Regions from separate parts of the Homo sapiens genome. Here region 1 is linked to region 2. A link means that fine-mapping ties the variant in region 2 to the expression of a gene that starts in the linked region. Tissue or cell type: whole blood. Region 2 holds a variant in brackets; the other region holds the start of a gene. All regions are shown on one strand. Distances are from middle to middle.

Evidence for each region. PIP is the estimated chance that this variant, and not a neighbour inherited with it, causes the effect.
Region 1: SSR1 starts here. The variant in region 2 is fine-mapped to the expression of SSR1 in whole blood (TOPMed, PIP above 0.99).

Annotation. Positions count from the first base shown.
Region 1 is chr6:7,309,230-7,317,330 of GRCh38, reverse strand. SSR1 (signal sequence receptor subunit 1) reads left to right here and starts at 4,132. Exons shown (of 8, transcript NM_003144.5): 1 at 4,132-4,289; 2 at 7,302-7,414. The coding sequence starts at 4,211. RefSeq lists enhancers at 3,757-3,816, 3,827-3,896, 3,233-4,099, 4,100-4,968 and silencers at 4,387-4,496, 4,627-4,676.
Region 2 is chr6:7,124,258-7,132,360 of GRCh38, reverse strand. The region is part of intron 1 of RREB1 (ras responsive element binding protein 1); the gene reads right to left. Among named protein-coding and RNA genes, the nearest start is that of RREB1, 20 kb to the right of the region's middle. RefSeq lists an enhancer at 7,482-8,000. The variant A/C (reference allele first, on the strand shown) is at 3,172.

The DNA.
Region 1 (8,101 bases), 180 kb before region 2:
TATGCTGAGTCAGTGGAGAACTCTGTAAGGTACAGTCACCTCAAAGCAGGGACAGCGTGCTGGCAGTCCTTGCTCGCTCTGGGGGCCTCCTCGGCCTTGGCGCCCACTCCAGCAGCGCTTGAGGAGCCCTTCAGCCCGCCGCTGCACTGTGGGAGCCCCTTTCTGGGCTGGCCAAGGCCAGAAGCGGCTCCCTCAGCTTGCGGGGAGGTGTGGAGGGAGAGGCGCGGGCGGGAACCAGGGCTGCGCGCGGCGCTTGTGGGCCAGCGCGAGTTCCGGGTGGGCGTGGGCTTGGCGGGCCCCGCACTCGGAGCGGCCAGCGGGTCCGGGCAGTGAAGGGCTTAGCACCTGGGCCAGCAGCTGCTGTGCTCTATGTCTCGCTAGGCCTTACCTGCTCCGCCGTGGGGCAAGGCTCGGGACCTGCAGCCTACCATGCCTGAGCCTCCCCGACGAGCGCCACCCCCAGCTCCACAGCGCCCAGTCCCATCGACCACCCAAGGGCTGAGGAGTGCTGGCGCACCGCGCGGGACTCGCAGGCAGCTCCACCTGCAGCCCCGGTGTGGGATCCACTGGGTGAAACCAGCTGGGCTCCTGAATCTAGTGGAGATTTAGAGAATCTTTCTGCCTAGCTGAGGGATTATAAACACACCAATCAGCACTCTGTATCTAACTCAAGGTTTATAAACACACCAATCAGCACACTGTATCTAGCTCAGGGTTTGTGAATGCACCAATTGGCACTCTAATCTGGTGGGGATTTGGAGAATGTCTAACTAAGGGATTGTGAATGTACCAATCAGCACTGTGTCTAGCCCAGGGTTTGTGAACACACCAATTGACACTCTGTGTATAGCTAACCCAGTGGGGACATGGAGAACTTTGTGTCTAGCTCACCAATTGAAAACACACCAATCAGCTCTAAAATAAACCAACCAGCAGAATGTGAAGCCAAATAAACGGAAAAAAAAGCAGGCTGCCTGAATCAGTGGCAACCTGCTCAGGTCCCACTCCAGTGTCCAGAATTGGGGGCTCATTAGCCTCCCTGACTTAAAGAATGAAGCTACAGACCCTCACAGTGAGTACTACAGTTCTTAAAGGCAGTGTATCCGGAGTTTCTTCCTTCTGGTGGGCTTGTAATCTCACTAGCCCAAGAGTAAACCCACAGACCTCCACAGTGAGCGTTACAGCTCTTAAGGTGGCATATCTTGAGTTATTCATTCTTCCTGGCGGGTTCGTGATTTCCCTAGCTTCAGGAGCGAAGCTGCAGACCTTCATAATGAGTGTTATAACTCATAAAGGCAATATGAGCTTAAAGAGCAAAAGAACAGATATTTTCCCAGCATGGAAAGAAACTGGAGCCTGTTGTCGCTGCTAAGCTCAGGGCAGCCTGCTTTTATTCTTATCTGGCCCCACCCACACCCTGCTGATTGGTAGAGCCGAGTGGCCTGTTTTGACTGGGCACTGATTGGTGCGTTTACAATCCCTGAGCTAGACACAAAGGTTCTCCACGTCCCCACTAGATTAGCTAGATACAGAGCGTGGACGCAAAGGTTCTCCAAGGTCCCACCAGAGTAGCTAGATACAAAGTGTCGATTGGTGCATTCACAAAGCCTGAGCTAGACACAGGGTGCTGATTGGTGTGTTTACAATCCCTGAGCTAGACATAAAGGTTCTCCACGTCTCCACCAGACTCAGAAGCCCAGCTGGCTTCACCCCGTGGAACCCGTACTGGGGCTGCAGGTGGAGCTGTCTGCCAGTCCCATGCCTGTGCACCTGTACTGATCAGCCCTTGGGTGGTGGAAGGAACTGGGCACCGTGCAGCAGGGGGTGGCGCTGGTCGGGGAGATTCCGGCTGCACAGAAGCCCATGGGGTTGGGGGAGGCTCAGACATGGTGGGCTGCAGGTCCCGAGCCCTGCCCCGCGGGAAGGCAGCTAAGGCCCGGTGAGAAATCGAGCACAGCAGCTGCTGGCCCAGGTTCTAAGCCCCTCACTGCCCCCCGCCTGGCCCAGTTGGCCGCTCCCACTGCAGGGCCCGCCAAGCCCACGCCCACCCGGAACTCGCACTGGCTGGCAAGCACCGCGCGTAACCCCAGTTCCCGCCCGCCCACGCCTCTCTCCACACCTTCCCGGCAAGCTGAGGGAGCTGGCTCCGGCCTTGGCCAGCCCAGAAAGGGGCTCCCACAGTGCAGCGGTGGGCTGAAGAGCTCCTCAAGTGCCACCAAAGTGGGGGCCCAGGCAGAGGAGGCGCCGAGAGCGAGCGAGGGCTGAGTACTGCCAGCATGCTGTCACCTCTCAGAAGCTTTGTTTTTTGCAATAAATCTTGCTGCTGCTCACTGCCTTTATGAGCTGTAACACTCACCGCGAAGGTCTGCAGCTTCACTCCTAAAGCCACCGAGACTATGAACCCACCAGGAGGAATGGACACCTTAACAGCTGTAACACTCACTGCGATGGTCTAGTAGCTTCACTCCTGAGCCAGTGAGACCATGAACCCACCAGAAGGAAGAAACTCGGAACACATCCGAACATGATGAAGGAACAAACTCTGGACTTTAAGAACTGTAACACTCAGCACGAGGGTCTGCGGTTTCAGTCTTAAAGTCAGTGAGACCAAGAACCCTATTCCAGACACAGCTCTGACATAGAGTGGCAACACTGGTAGCGTGCACAGGAGCAGAGGCAGCAGCAAAGTGAGAGGAGGCCCTCCACTTATGCTGGGCGCCCTAGTAGCAGCAGCAACACAGCAGCGGTGCCACTGGTGGCCTGGCAGAGTGGAATTTGGTTGATTCAGCCCAGCACCATCAGGCTGTGACTTTAGCAGACTGTAGGTAGTGGTGGCAGTGGGTCCAAGCTGCATTTACAGCCCCCAGGACAAGGAGACCTGAAGCGGAAACAATGCAGGAGTAGAACAGCAAATGTCCTAGGTCAGTAGTGTATGGAATCTGGAACCAGATAGCCTTGTTCAAATCTTGCATCTGCCGTTTGCTAGCGTTTTGAAGCTTTGAGTAAATTACTAACCTCTCTGGGTCTGTTTTCTCCTCAGTAAATAATATCCAGCTCATAGAGAGGTTTAGAAAATTAAATGAAAAAGCACAGCTCTAAGGAGGTGATTGACAATAGTAAGCATATGATTTATTTCCTCATCTTTATGACATCTCACTCTGGTCCAGACCAAGATTACTTAATATTCAGATTAATTTCATGAACTGCTATATTACTCCAGCAACTCAAATCCAAAATAGATGAAAAGGAAACTAAAGAAAACTGGACAGCCATTGCTGCACCTATTGTATAGTTACAAATGCTGACTACATACCAAAACACTGTTTAGGTGACTTATAATTCTGGAATGTCACATACGAATTTAAGAATTGCTGGCCAGGCGCAGTGGCTCACACCTGTAATCCCAGCACTTTGAGAGACCCAGGCGGGTGGATCACCTGAGGTCAGGAGTTTGAGATTAGTCTGGCCAACATGGTGAAACCCCCGTCTCCAGTAAAAATACAAAAATTAGCCGGGCGTAGTGGTGCGCGCCTGTAGTCCCAGCTGCTTAGGAGGCTGAGGCGGGAGAATCGCTTGAACCCGGGAGGCGGAGGTTGCGGTGAACAGAGATGGTGCCACTGAACTCTGGCCTGGGCGACAGAGCAAGACTTCGTCTCAAAAATAATAATTTAAGAATTGTCATTACTTAACCATGGGAGAGGGTGTGGGCAGACAGGGGACAAAGATTTTCCACTGTGTATTTTCATGGTTTTTCCTTTGAACAATGTCCTCTCTTCCAACAAAATTTTTTGCTTTTAAGTGCCACATAAAGGCAGCTCATGTTCCTTACATCGCCGTTATCAAGAGGATCGTCATTCAAATAAAGTAACCACTGACAATGCTAATTAATTGGAAGTAAAGAACTGGGCGGAAAGAACGGCTAACCGCAAGCTGCCGGGTCGCAACTGCGGCGGAAGGCGGACTCTCGCGGGAGCCACAAAGAGGCAGCAGCCGGCCACGTGACTTCCCGGTGGCCTGCTCTCCCCACCTCTCCGCGCTGAGCAGCCACGTCGGCGGCGGTCCCTGGTCCAGGGAGGGGCGTGGCAAAGGCCCGTGCGCGGTACGTGTCCCGCCCCTCGCTGCCCGGAGCCCGGATGAAGAGTAACGCCATTACCGCCGGAGCCGCCGAGAGCCTTAGCCGACGGAAACTGGACACTGGACCGGCAGCGCCATGAGACTCCTCCCCCGCTTGCTGCTGCTTCTCTTACTCGTGTTCCCTGCCACTGTCTTGTTCCGAGGCGGCCCCAGAGGTGAGGCTGGGGGAGTGTGCGGAGGGGATGGCCAGGAAGGAGATGCCAGTGATGGCAAGTTTGAAGTTGGAGGCGGTGGCCGCTCCGGGTCCTGGGGTCCGCGTCCACCCCGCTGGCCTCTCTCCGCCCTCTCCCCAAGCCTAGGCTCGTAGCAGCAGGGGTCCCCGCGGGCGCTGGAGACCCCGCTGCGGCCTGCCCCTTGCACGCGGAGCGCGGGGCCGTGCCCGGGCGACCTTGCTTCGTGGCCGGCCGAGGGCTGGGCTTGCTCCTCTTGCCCTGGACCCTCGCCTGCAGGAGCGGCCAGAACTGGAGGGTCCTCGGCTGCAGGAGGAGGCGCTGGACACGGCTGCGCTCCGAGCGCGCCGCAGCCGGGCTGTTTCTTTTGGCCACCTCCGGCTCCGCTCCACCCCCAGCCCCTCGCGCTCAGGGCTGACGTGTCTTTAGCTTCCACGCCGGGAGTCCGTCTTCATTCATTTGCCAAAACCCTTGTTTTCTACACATCTAAGCCATCAGAGTGTCTTGTTCAATGGTCATCTGCCTTGTTCACGCCCTGCTTGACCCGTATGTGTTACTAGGAGGCTTGATTTCAGAAAAACTACCCCATCGTCACCCCCGTTATCCGCCCCTGCTGCCAAGCAGACTGAAGAATCCCTGTGGGATGTCTCCCTTCTGCCTTCTTCCTCTTCTTGTCTTTCCATGGAACAATTTTTTGTTTGTGGAAACATCGTATTGTGCTGAAAAAATGTGGCCTACTTCGAGTGTTTTTAATACATAGATTTATTCTTTCAACAATTAACCCAGCAATTAAGTGTGAAAATAACTTAGCAGAATATAAAAATATGGCAACTTGACTTCCTGCACAGGTTTTGTCGTGAACTTCGACTTTCTAATTTGTAAAGTGAAATAATTAGTCTGACTAAGCATCCCTTTCATTCTGTAAGTTTAAGCAAGCTGTGTGTCTTAACGGTAGTGACAGGTATTCACGAGTTGTTTTGCGATGAAAAGTGAAGTGACTGGCTTCTGTTTAATGGCTAGAAAACCAAGTGGGAGAATTAAACAACTGTTAATGAGTTAATCTGCAGGTTTAACAAGATTTTTTACTTTAGGAGTCGTTTGCTGGTACTCTTTAAGCTTTTTAAAAGAAAACTTGACAAATGTAGTTTTAGTTTTAGAACTATTTATAACTATTTTCAAGTTATAAAAACTTTCAAGAAGCATGAATTCATTATCTAAACTGAATTAATATCTTGTAAACATTTTTTGTGAGAAACGGTTTTTGTGTTTGGTTTTTCCAGTTGAATGAAGACTGTTAGACTTCATGGGGACAAAATTGTTATTGGTTAACATTAAAATAATAAAATTGTTTAATATTTATGAAAGGCCTTTATATTCCAAAGTGCTCAAATTTAACCACGACTTTAAATTACTATATCAGACATGGTATTTTTCTTACTGGTTTTTGAAAAGGACTTGTAAGTTATGAATGCACTATTTTAGGCTTTGTTCAGCAGGCAGTGAAATCTCTTTAGTTCATAATGCATGGTTCAGTGTTCTTTAATATTTTGCAATAAATCTTAGCAGCCAGTGAGAACTTAAAGACATGGAAAAGACTGCAAATGCATGGTCCTTAACTGTTTCTCCTGGGTGAAAACACGCTTCCCTTCCCATGTTTTTTATCCACAGAATTGCCACATCATCATTTTTTCTGAGAGATGTTGGAAGACACTAGAACTTTGAAATTCTTTTTATGGTCTTGCCTGAAATAGATATAATGTGACTTACTTAGAGTACTATTGTCTATAAAACTGTGATTCACCTTTTTTTTGCATTATACCTGTACTTTGTAACACTAAGTTTGAGAAAAAATATCTTAAAACATGTTTGAAGCCACATGCAAAAATAATTGGATTCTTTCTTTGCTATCAAACCTGAAGCTACCAATACAGTTTTTACTAAACAATGTTTTTCATGCAAGCCAGTTTTTACCATGGATATGATTACAGATATTTGTTCCTTGGCTTACAAACTATCCAGTTCTAAGAGTTTCAGCTGTAGTCACCTCTGATAACAGTGTTTCCTACATAGAACATTAGAACTTAAGAATGCTTTATTTTTTTATTTTTATTTTTTTGAGACGGTGTCTTGCTGTGTCGCCCAGGCTGGAGTGCAGTGGTACAATCTTGGCTCACTGCAACTTCTGCCTCCTGGGTTCAAGCGATTCTCCTGCCTCAGCCTCTGGAGTAGCTGGAACCACAGGTGTGTGCCACCACACCCAGCTAATTTTTGCATTTTCAGTAGAGGCGGGGTTTCTCTGTATTGGCCAGGCTGGTCTTGAACTCCTGGCCTCAAGTAATTCACCCTCCTCAGCCTTCTAAAGTGCTGGGATTACAGGCGTGAGCCACCGCGCCGGCCAAGAATGCTGTTTTCTTTTAAACGTGGGGGTTGTTTAGTTTGCTTTGTATGGTTAATGACAGGGATTACATTTAGAAGTTTCTTATCTTTGCAAAAAATTATTTTCCTTAATTTGCTTAACAAAGTTGCTTGAAGTTCTTTGTGCTTCAAGGCATCTTTAGTTTGTGCCATTCATTTTTCCATCTGTTGGGCACTTTTTGAAGTTAAACCACATTTCCCATTAAAAATAACATGGAAGGCAGGGAACAGTGGTTCACGCCTCTAGTCCTAGCTACCCAGGAAGCTGAGGTGGAAGGATCACTTGGGCCCAGGAGTTTGAGGCTGCAGTGAGCTATGACTGCACAACTGTACTCCCAACCTAGGCATCAGAGCAAGACCCTGACTCTTAAAAAAAAAAAAAAAAAATTGATATGCAGTTGTTAAGACTACTAGTAAACTAAAATATAAATATTCTTCGGTGCATTGTAATTGGCATCATTCAGGTGAACTGGGAGATTCTGTTAGTCCAAGGGAAGTTTTTTTTGCCTATACCTGATGTTAAAAAAAGAAATTAGTATTTCAGAGTAAAGGGTAACTGCTTTTTCTGTATTTTATCATTAGGCTTGTTAGCAGTGGCACAAGATCTTACAGAGGATGAAGAAACAGTAGAAGATTCCATAATTGAGGATGAAGATGATGAAGCCGAGGTAGAAGAAGATGAACCCACAGATTTGGTTAGTGTTACATACTATTTAATATATGTAAAATGTATGTAATTGTATTCATCTGTTCTCATGCTGCTAATAAAGACATACCCAAGACTGGGTAATTTATAAAGGAAAAAGGTTTCATTGACCCACAGTTCAGCATGACTGGGGAGGCCTCAGGAAACTTACCATCATGGCAGAAATTGAAGCAAACATGTCCTTCTTCACAAGGTGACAGCAAGGAGAAGTGCAGAGCAAAGGGTGGGGAAAGCCCCTTATAAAAACCATCAGATCTTGTGAGAACTCACTTTCACGAGAACAGCATGGAGGTAACCGTCCCCGTGATTCATTTACCTCCCACCAGGTTCCTCCCACGATGTGCAGATTATGGGAACTACACTTCAAGATGAGATTTGGTTGGGGACACAGCAAAACCGTTATCAATAGTACATCTAGAATTTATCCTTACTTATTTATTTTTAGAGACAGAGACTTGCTCTGTTCCCCAGGCTGGAGTGCAGTGGCACGAGCATAGCTCACTGCAGCCTCGAACTCCTGGGCTCAAGTGATCCTCTTGCCTCAGCCTCCTGAGTAGCTAGGACTACCGTCATGCCCCAACAAGCCCGGCTAATTTTTGTAATTTTTTTTTGTAGAGACAGGGTCTTGCTATGTTGCCCAGGCTAGTCTAAAACTTCTGGGCTCAAGTGATGATCC
Region 2 (8,103 bases):
AATCTCGGCTGGGCACGGTGGCTCACATCTGCAATCCCAGCACTTTGGAAGGCCGAGGCAGGTAGATCACCTGAGGTCAGGAGTTCGAGTCCAGCCTGACCAACATGATGAAACCCTGTCTCTACTAAAAATACAAAAATTGGCCAGGCATGGTGGCGCATGCCTGTAATCCCAGCTACTTCGGAGGCTAAGGCAGGAGAATCGCTTGAACCCGGGAGGCAGAGGCTGCAGTGAGCCGAGATTGCACCATTGTACTCCAGCCTGGGCAACAAGAGCAAAACTCTGTCTCAAACAAACAAACCAAAAAAACCCGATCTTTACTAAAAATACAAAAACTAGCTGGGAGTAGTGGCATGTGCCTGTAGTCCCAGCTACTTGGGAGGCTGAGGCACGACAATCACAGGAACCCAGGAGGTGAAGGTCGCAGTGAGCCAAGATCACACCACTGCACTCCAGCCTGGATGACAGAGGAGACTCTGTCTCCAAAAAAAAAAAAAGTCCTCAAGGAGCTTAACCTATAGTACATTATCTCCCTTTCTTCCCCCATTTAAAAATGGACAAAGCATTAGAAAACAAATCCAATAGAAGCCATCAGCTTTGGCCGGGCGTGTGGCTTACACTTGTAATCCTACCACTTTGGGAGGCAGAGATGGGAGGATCCCTTGAGGCCAGGAGTTCGAGAAGCTATCAGCTTTGTCAGCCCAAAAGTGGATATTTTTACTTAAAAAACAAATGCAGAAGTGAAAAGATGAAGAGCACTTGTATTGGAGTACACTGGCCTGGGTTTGAATTCAGACTCCCTCACTAACTAGCTAGAGTAACCTTGGGCAAGTTATTTAAACTAAGCCCCAGCTTCCTCATCTGTAAACAGAAATAACAGTGAACTTTTAAGTTGATGCAAAGATTAAATCAGATGAAATACAGACTGCAAGAGGTATAATGCCTCCTGTACATTAAGTTAGGTAACTGAAAAGATTAGGGTAACCTCCCCAAATGCCACCTTCCAAATCTGCAAAATGAGGATAATTATACCAATTTAATAGGACTGTTGTGAGGACTATGAAGATAATGCACAGAAAGCATTTACCATGACTGGCATACGATGGTACATATTTGCTTCTTAGAAATGAGTATTGGCCGGGCGCGGTGGCTCACGCCTGTAATCCCAGCACTTTGGGAGGCCGACGTGGATGGATCGCAAGGTCAGGAGATCGAGACCACAGTGAAACCCCGTCTCTACTAAAAATACAAAAAATTAGCCGGGCGCAGTGGCGGGCGCCTGTAGTCCCACCTACTCCGGAGGCTGAGGCAGGAGAATGGTGTGAACCCGAGAGGCGGAGCTTGCAGTGAGCCGAGATCGCGCCACTGACCTCCAGCCTGGGCGACAGAGCAAGACTCCGTCTCAAAAAAAAAAAAAAAAAAAAAAAAAAAGACATGACTATTAACAGTCAGGAGCAGTGGCTCACGCCTGTAATCCCAACACTTTGGGAGGCCAAGGTGGATGGATCATGAGGTCAGAAGTTTGAGACCAGCCTGGCCGACATGGTAAAACCCCATCTCTACTAAACATACAAAAGTTAGCTGGGTGTGGTGGCAGGTGCTTATAAGCCCAGCTACTCGGGAGACTAAGGCAGAAGAATTGCTTGAACCCAGGAGGCAGAGGTTGCAGTGAGCCAAGATCACGCCATGGCACTCCAGCCTGGGTGACAGAGCAAGACTCCATCTCGAAAAAAAAAAAAAGAAATGACTACTAACAAAAGTAAATGGGGAGGGTAGGCATGGCAGCTTTCACTAGTGAACCCCATGACTAAAGCTATAGAGAAACAGCTGGGAAAAGCAATTCTGGGGAAGAACACTATGCCCCCAAGACCAGGCACCAGGCAGAGACTCCCAGCAGACAGTTTGCCCACACAGTGGGATCAGATGCAGGTGGTTGTGAAATGACAAATGCAACCAAATCTGAGTCACCCAGGGTGACGTCCAGAGCGCGTGGATTATGGCAGCCTTGGCTTCGGTTGCCTCTCTTTCAGGCGCTTCCAGCTTTACCAGAGGCCTGAAAGAGCAAAGGAGAGGAATGGAAAGGGATTTACTACTACTACTTTGCAGGTTTTTAGAGGAAGGAGTGTTGGCTATGGAGGATAAAAATGATTTGGAGGAATTATCAGTAAAAGTCATTTATCCAGACTTGCTCTTGCCCCCAGTGAGGGCAGGTGAAGGCACTCCTTGTCTCCTTTTGGGCTGAGGCAGAGAACAGCAACAGGCAAAGACAGCAAGACTCCAAAATTGAGTGAGGGAGGGGAGAGTCAGTAGAGTGGGCTCAAGTGCCACACTACAACACCTGGGACAAGTAGGTTCACCAGCTCACGGTGCTCTGGGCCAGGTGTGCTGACTGACCCGTAGCTCCACTCAACAGACTGCTGGAAAGCTCTTGGCCCTACCTTCAGTAAACCAGAGGTCTTGGTATATACACCCGTCTACCAACATTATAAACAAGATAAATCAGTTCCGTAAACAAGCACCAAAAAGGGGCCTACCAGACCAAAGGGACATGAACCAAAACCTTCTATGTCAGGGCTAAAGTGGAACCCAGGTTCCCTGCTGCCCGGCTGCACCTTTCCGACAACAGGATGTTACCCCTCTCGAAGGTGGCTCACCTGGAATTGGTAACCACAAAGTCAAATATCAAGCAAAGTATGTGATTCAGCTTTTCAACAAGTCTATGGCTGTAAAGAAATAAAGCTTCGCTATGTGTGTACATCACTGCAGTGGCTTTAGGCAATTCAGATATCCTGGGTGCTGCCTCTTGGTTCATCCTGTACGAGCTGCCATGGGAGGCACTCTCTGCCTCAGGCCAAAAAGCAAACAGTGAAGTGAGCCACGGCAGTCACCCAAAGCACAGACACACAAACCACATGCCCACTGTTGAGGGTGTCTCCAAGGCCTAAGCAGGCCAACTGTGACTTCTCTACTCAAAAACTTTGGACTCCCTACCACTTAAATTAAGAAGAAAAGGTCAAATCCTGCCCCACCTTCCACCTTGCCCCACTATCCCTCCAACCCATCTTCTCAGACACCTTCCTCAACACCAAATTACACTGTAAACTCAAAACCAACCTGCTTTCCTGCTGGGCTCTCAGCCCCTACTTGTGCTTTTCCTAGAAGTGCAGACCC[A/C]CTCCTGCGAGCTTCTGTGAGCCTTGGCCTTCCCATGGGAACTTGGCTCAGGGTCCACATGGCATAAGAATTCCTTTCATAATGTCAACTCCCCAAAGGCAAGAAACACCAAACTCCACCATGCCTAAACCTAGCATAGCAATTGCTCAATTAAGGATATTTCAGATGAAGCTGGAGGTATTCAAATAATGTGTTAAGCTCAAAAGCATAACTTTTTTTTTGAGACGGAGTCTCACTCTGTTGCCCAAGCTGGAGTGCAGTGGCCCAATCTCAGCTTAGTGCAACCTCCGCCTCCCGGATTCACGCAATTCTCCTGTCTCAGCTTCCCGAGTTGCTGGAATTACAGGTGCCCACCACCACACCTGGCTAATTTTTCTATTTTTAATAGAGATGGGGTTTCACCATATTGGCCAGGCTGGTCTCGAACTCCTGAACTCAGGTGATCTGCCCGCCTTGGCCTCCTAAAGTGCTGGGATTACAGGTGTGAGCCACCACGCCCGGCCCCAAGACAAACAAATTGAGTCAAGTGGTAGAAACTCTCCAGGTATCACCGTATATTGAGATTATCTAAAAGAACAACTCTTAAAGCCTGCCATAAAGCTTCCTGGTCATGTGTCACTGGCTGCATGATCTCAGAAACAGGAGCATCTCTAAGCCTCAGTTTCCTGTCTTTAAAAAGGAGAAAATAACAGCTACACCTCATGAAGTTGTTGAGATGATTACACACAGAGACATACATGGTGCTCTGCTTCCCCTAAGTAGTGTGCCCTGGTCGAACCCACTAAAAGCAGCACTTTCAGACACTGCCTCCAACCCAGCTCCCCTCCAGGTCCCCCAAAAGCTCCACTTCAGCTTACCAGAATCCTACTTCCTCCTGCACAATCTCAAATGCGAGAACACATGAAAAAACAAAACTAAACAAAAAATGTTCGCCAACAATTCGGAAAATCATAAAATGAAACAATCTGTTTTCAGTGATGGAAATGATTGAGGTATGTGTTCTGTCCAACCCACCAAGTTTACAGGAGGCCTACCCCCATTTTGCACAACCCTCCCATCCAAGTCCCTTAGTCCATGAGTACAAGCTTTGAAATGTATAAAGTCAGGCTATAAAAAATTCGTATTTCTTCCCCAGAGGACTCTGAAAACCTGAGAGTACAAGGCAATGTTGTGCCTCTACAATAATTACTACACCATTAATTGTCTTTGGGGCCTGCAGTCTGACTTCCTTCACATCCACTCTAACTTTTCAGGCCTCGGGCACATGATGCTCCTTTGTTGGCTGTTTCAGCTGCAGTGAAGGGGGTGGATCCAAGCAGAGGACCAGGAACATCTGAGGGGCAGAGTCGTGACCCAGATGAGGGCACATGCTCTGCAGGTGAGCAGCGAGCTGGCAATTGCTGTAAGGCAGCTCCACCTTTTGAACAGATTCTATTTCCACCAGACGCTGCCAGCCCCTAAAGCCATCACCCACAGAGTCATCAAGACAGCAAATTAGCTGGCCCTCTGCTCACACCTATCCCACCCTGCAGTCACTCCCAACTGACACACCAAACTCGTGGTTACGAGGAATACATTGTCCCAGTTCAGCTCCCAGTGTCCATCCTCAATATTTTTGAGAAATGAGTCCCTCTCCTCTAAAGAATTCCAATCTCTAATGACCTTAAGTAAGTACCAACTAGTACAACACAATTAGGGAAGTCTAAACATTGTTGAATTATATTTGCTGAAAATAAATGTTCCCACCTTTCCCCTATCATTTAACAAGGCTTCAGAAGGCAGCCCACATATCCTGGGTTGAAAAATCTCTTGTAAAAAAAAAGGGAAGAAGTTATTCTGTTAAAGAGAATACCAAATTCCAAGTTCACACTGCAGTTTGCTAAACACCTTGTCTTCTCTCCGACTTAAATTTTCTAAAGGGTTAGCAGTTCTCTGAACCACAGAGCTGCTCACATCACAGTCCTGCTCCAAAGCATTTGATGGCTCACAACAGACTCCACCACCGAGCCCCCGTCCATTTTTCCAGGGCCAACACTTCTCATCATTCCAACTCAATACAACACGCCTAAGCCCTATCCTCTAGTCACATTCCACTTTTTGCCCTACCCTGTCCTCAACTAAGCCTCATATTTTCATACTCCAGGGCCTGTACTTAAACTGCTTTTTGCCTAGAAGGACGTTTTCCTTCCCCACATCATCCTCCTCCACATGACAAGCCCTGCACATTTGAGAGCATCACTTCCTCTTCTTTTCCCAACCACTTCCCACTTGCAGGCCCCTCCACTTGTCCTTGCTGGTTATGAGGCACTGACGAGTTTTAGGGCAGGGACCATGTTTTACCCATCCTTGCATTTCCAGAGGCTGGTACCCAGGGCAAGTGTCAAGAAACGGTTCTTGATGCAGGCTTGCTGATGGTGGTATTCCACAGATGGGAAAAAAGGAGCCCAGAATGCTGGCCTCCTAATCCAGATTGCTTCTCAGTATTATTTTGCTGAAACTACCCAGCTGCTGTGAGCAAAATAACAATGATAATAACAGTAGCAAATAGAGAAGATAGGTCAGTTATAACTGAGCTGGTAGCACACAAGACGTAATTCTCTGTTACTAGTTTCAAAACAGTCCTGCCAGCACAGTGGCTCATGCCTGTAATCCCAGCACTTTGGGAGGCGGAGGCAGGCAGATCACCCGAGGTCAGGAGTTTAAGACCAGCCTGACCAATACGATGAAACCCCATCTCTACTAAAAATAAAAAAATCAGCTAGATGTGGTGGCGTGTGCCTGTAATCACAGCTACTAGGGAGGCTAAGACAGGAGAATCGCTTGAACCTGGGAGGCGGAGGTTGTAGTGCACTCCAGCCTGGGCAACAAGAATGGGTCGGGGGGGAATCGAGGCCGGGCGCAGTGGCTCACGCCTGTAATCCCAGCACTTTGGGAGGCCAAGGCGGGCGGATCACGAGGTCAGCAGTTCAAGGCCAGCCTGACCAACATAGTGAAACCCAGCCTCTACTAAAAATACAAAAATTAGCTGGGTGTGGTGGTGCGCACCTGTAATCCCAGCTACTCAGGAGGCTGAGGCAGGAGAATCACTTGAACCCGGGAGGCGGAGGTTGCAGTGAGCCGAGATCGTGCCACTGCACTCCAGCTTGGGCGACAGAGCAAGACTCCGTCTCAAAACAAACAAACAAACAAACAAACAAACAAAAAACAGTCCTTCTCCGCAGACAGGAAGAAGCAGGAAACAGACCTTGAAGTACTTACCGTAATTCAGTATCTGCCAGTTCCATAACTTGCTCCGATGCCCTCACAAAGGAGCAAGGCACACTGGGAACCCCCATCCCAAACACACTCTAAGAGACAGGACAGCCTCCTCTCATTGCCCTCCAGTCCACACGGCTCTTCCTGCTTGAAAAGTAAAACAACAAAGAAACAACACCTCCCAGAGGCTATCACACTTGAGCACTGCCACATGTCACTGGGCCTCTTACAATCACCCCAATACCAGTTCTGAGGCAAAACCTTGAGTTTCCATATTATGTAAAATAATAAACTATTATAAAACAACAATGGACCTGTTCTCAAGGCACTGGCCCTACCCAATGCAAAACTAAATTCCCAAATGCTTATAGAGCTTAGAGTCTCTTCAAAAGTAGGCAACCTGTGAGTCTGAAACAGGGCTGAGTACTTTCAGGGAGGTTAAAAGTGGTGCCCACATGAAAGGTTTCAAGAGACAGGAGAGGCCCCCCCATTAACCACATGGAGGACTAGCAGAAGCCTGGAGTCCAAGGCCCCACTCTTCCACTTCTGGGACATTTCCCACCACGCAAAAGATCATCTCTGTTCTACACTCTAACCTTTCCAAGGGGAACAGGGTGACAATTCCATACTTGGCAGAATTTGTCCAGTGTTTCACCCTACCTCTCCACCAGGTCTTTCCCTGACAGTCTTATGCTTTAGTGTCTTGTTGACCTCCCTTCTATAAGGGCTCCCAAATTCCAGTCACCTGGTTTGTGTACTAACACCACTTTTGCAAACCCCTCACTTCCACAAAACACTGAATCTCCCTTCTGACCATCACAGAAGTGAAGATCTAGCTTATGTTGTCAAATACCAGCTAGAATAAGCTGTTCCACTGGTAAGCTGTAATCTGCTGTTTCCACAAGCCAGAACAGTTTTCCCCTCGATGTGCCTCACAAGGAAGGATCTGCACACAGCAGGTTTTCAGTGAGTTCTTGTTTGGTGAATGGATCATGTCTCTATGACAGGTAGTCTGCCAGAGGTCAGAAGCACAGCTCAGAGTCACACTTCACAGTTTGAGCCCTACTAGCTAGCTGCTTCTCTGGGTCTCAATTTCCTCATCTGAATCATGGGGATAACAACTGCATCTACATCATGGGGTCAGAGAATTGTTGTGATGAATGAATGAGATGATGCATGAAAGGAATTTAGGCGGCTGGTAACTAGTACAGGCTCAATAAATGTTAGATCTTATGACTGCTGCTTCTACTGCCACCATGCTGGGAGTATTTCTACATGAAAAGCCTAACAACCAACAAAGGGTGAAAACTAAATTATAACAATGGAGTCCCATGGAGTTACTTGAATGCTGGGAGTTGAACTTATTTAAAAGTACTCTAGACAGATTAATTTGTAATATAACCACTTGCAGTTTCTGGTGTTTAGGACTGGATTTCTGTGTACTCAGTTTCCTGAAGAGACACAAGAGGCAATGCTAGCTACCATGAGACTTCTGGTAGCTACCATGAGACAAGCTGGCCAAATGAGCCCTTCCAAAATTCCACTTCCTGCAAAGATAACAATGACATAAATCATGATCTCTAAATATAATAATTTGGCCAATGCTAACCACACCGCCTCCCCAATACACATATACTCCCCCCCTTTTCTTGAGCACACCACAAAAGGAACACATGA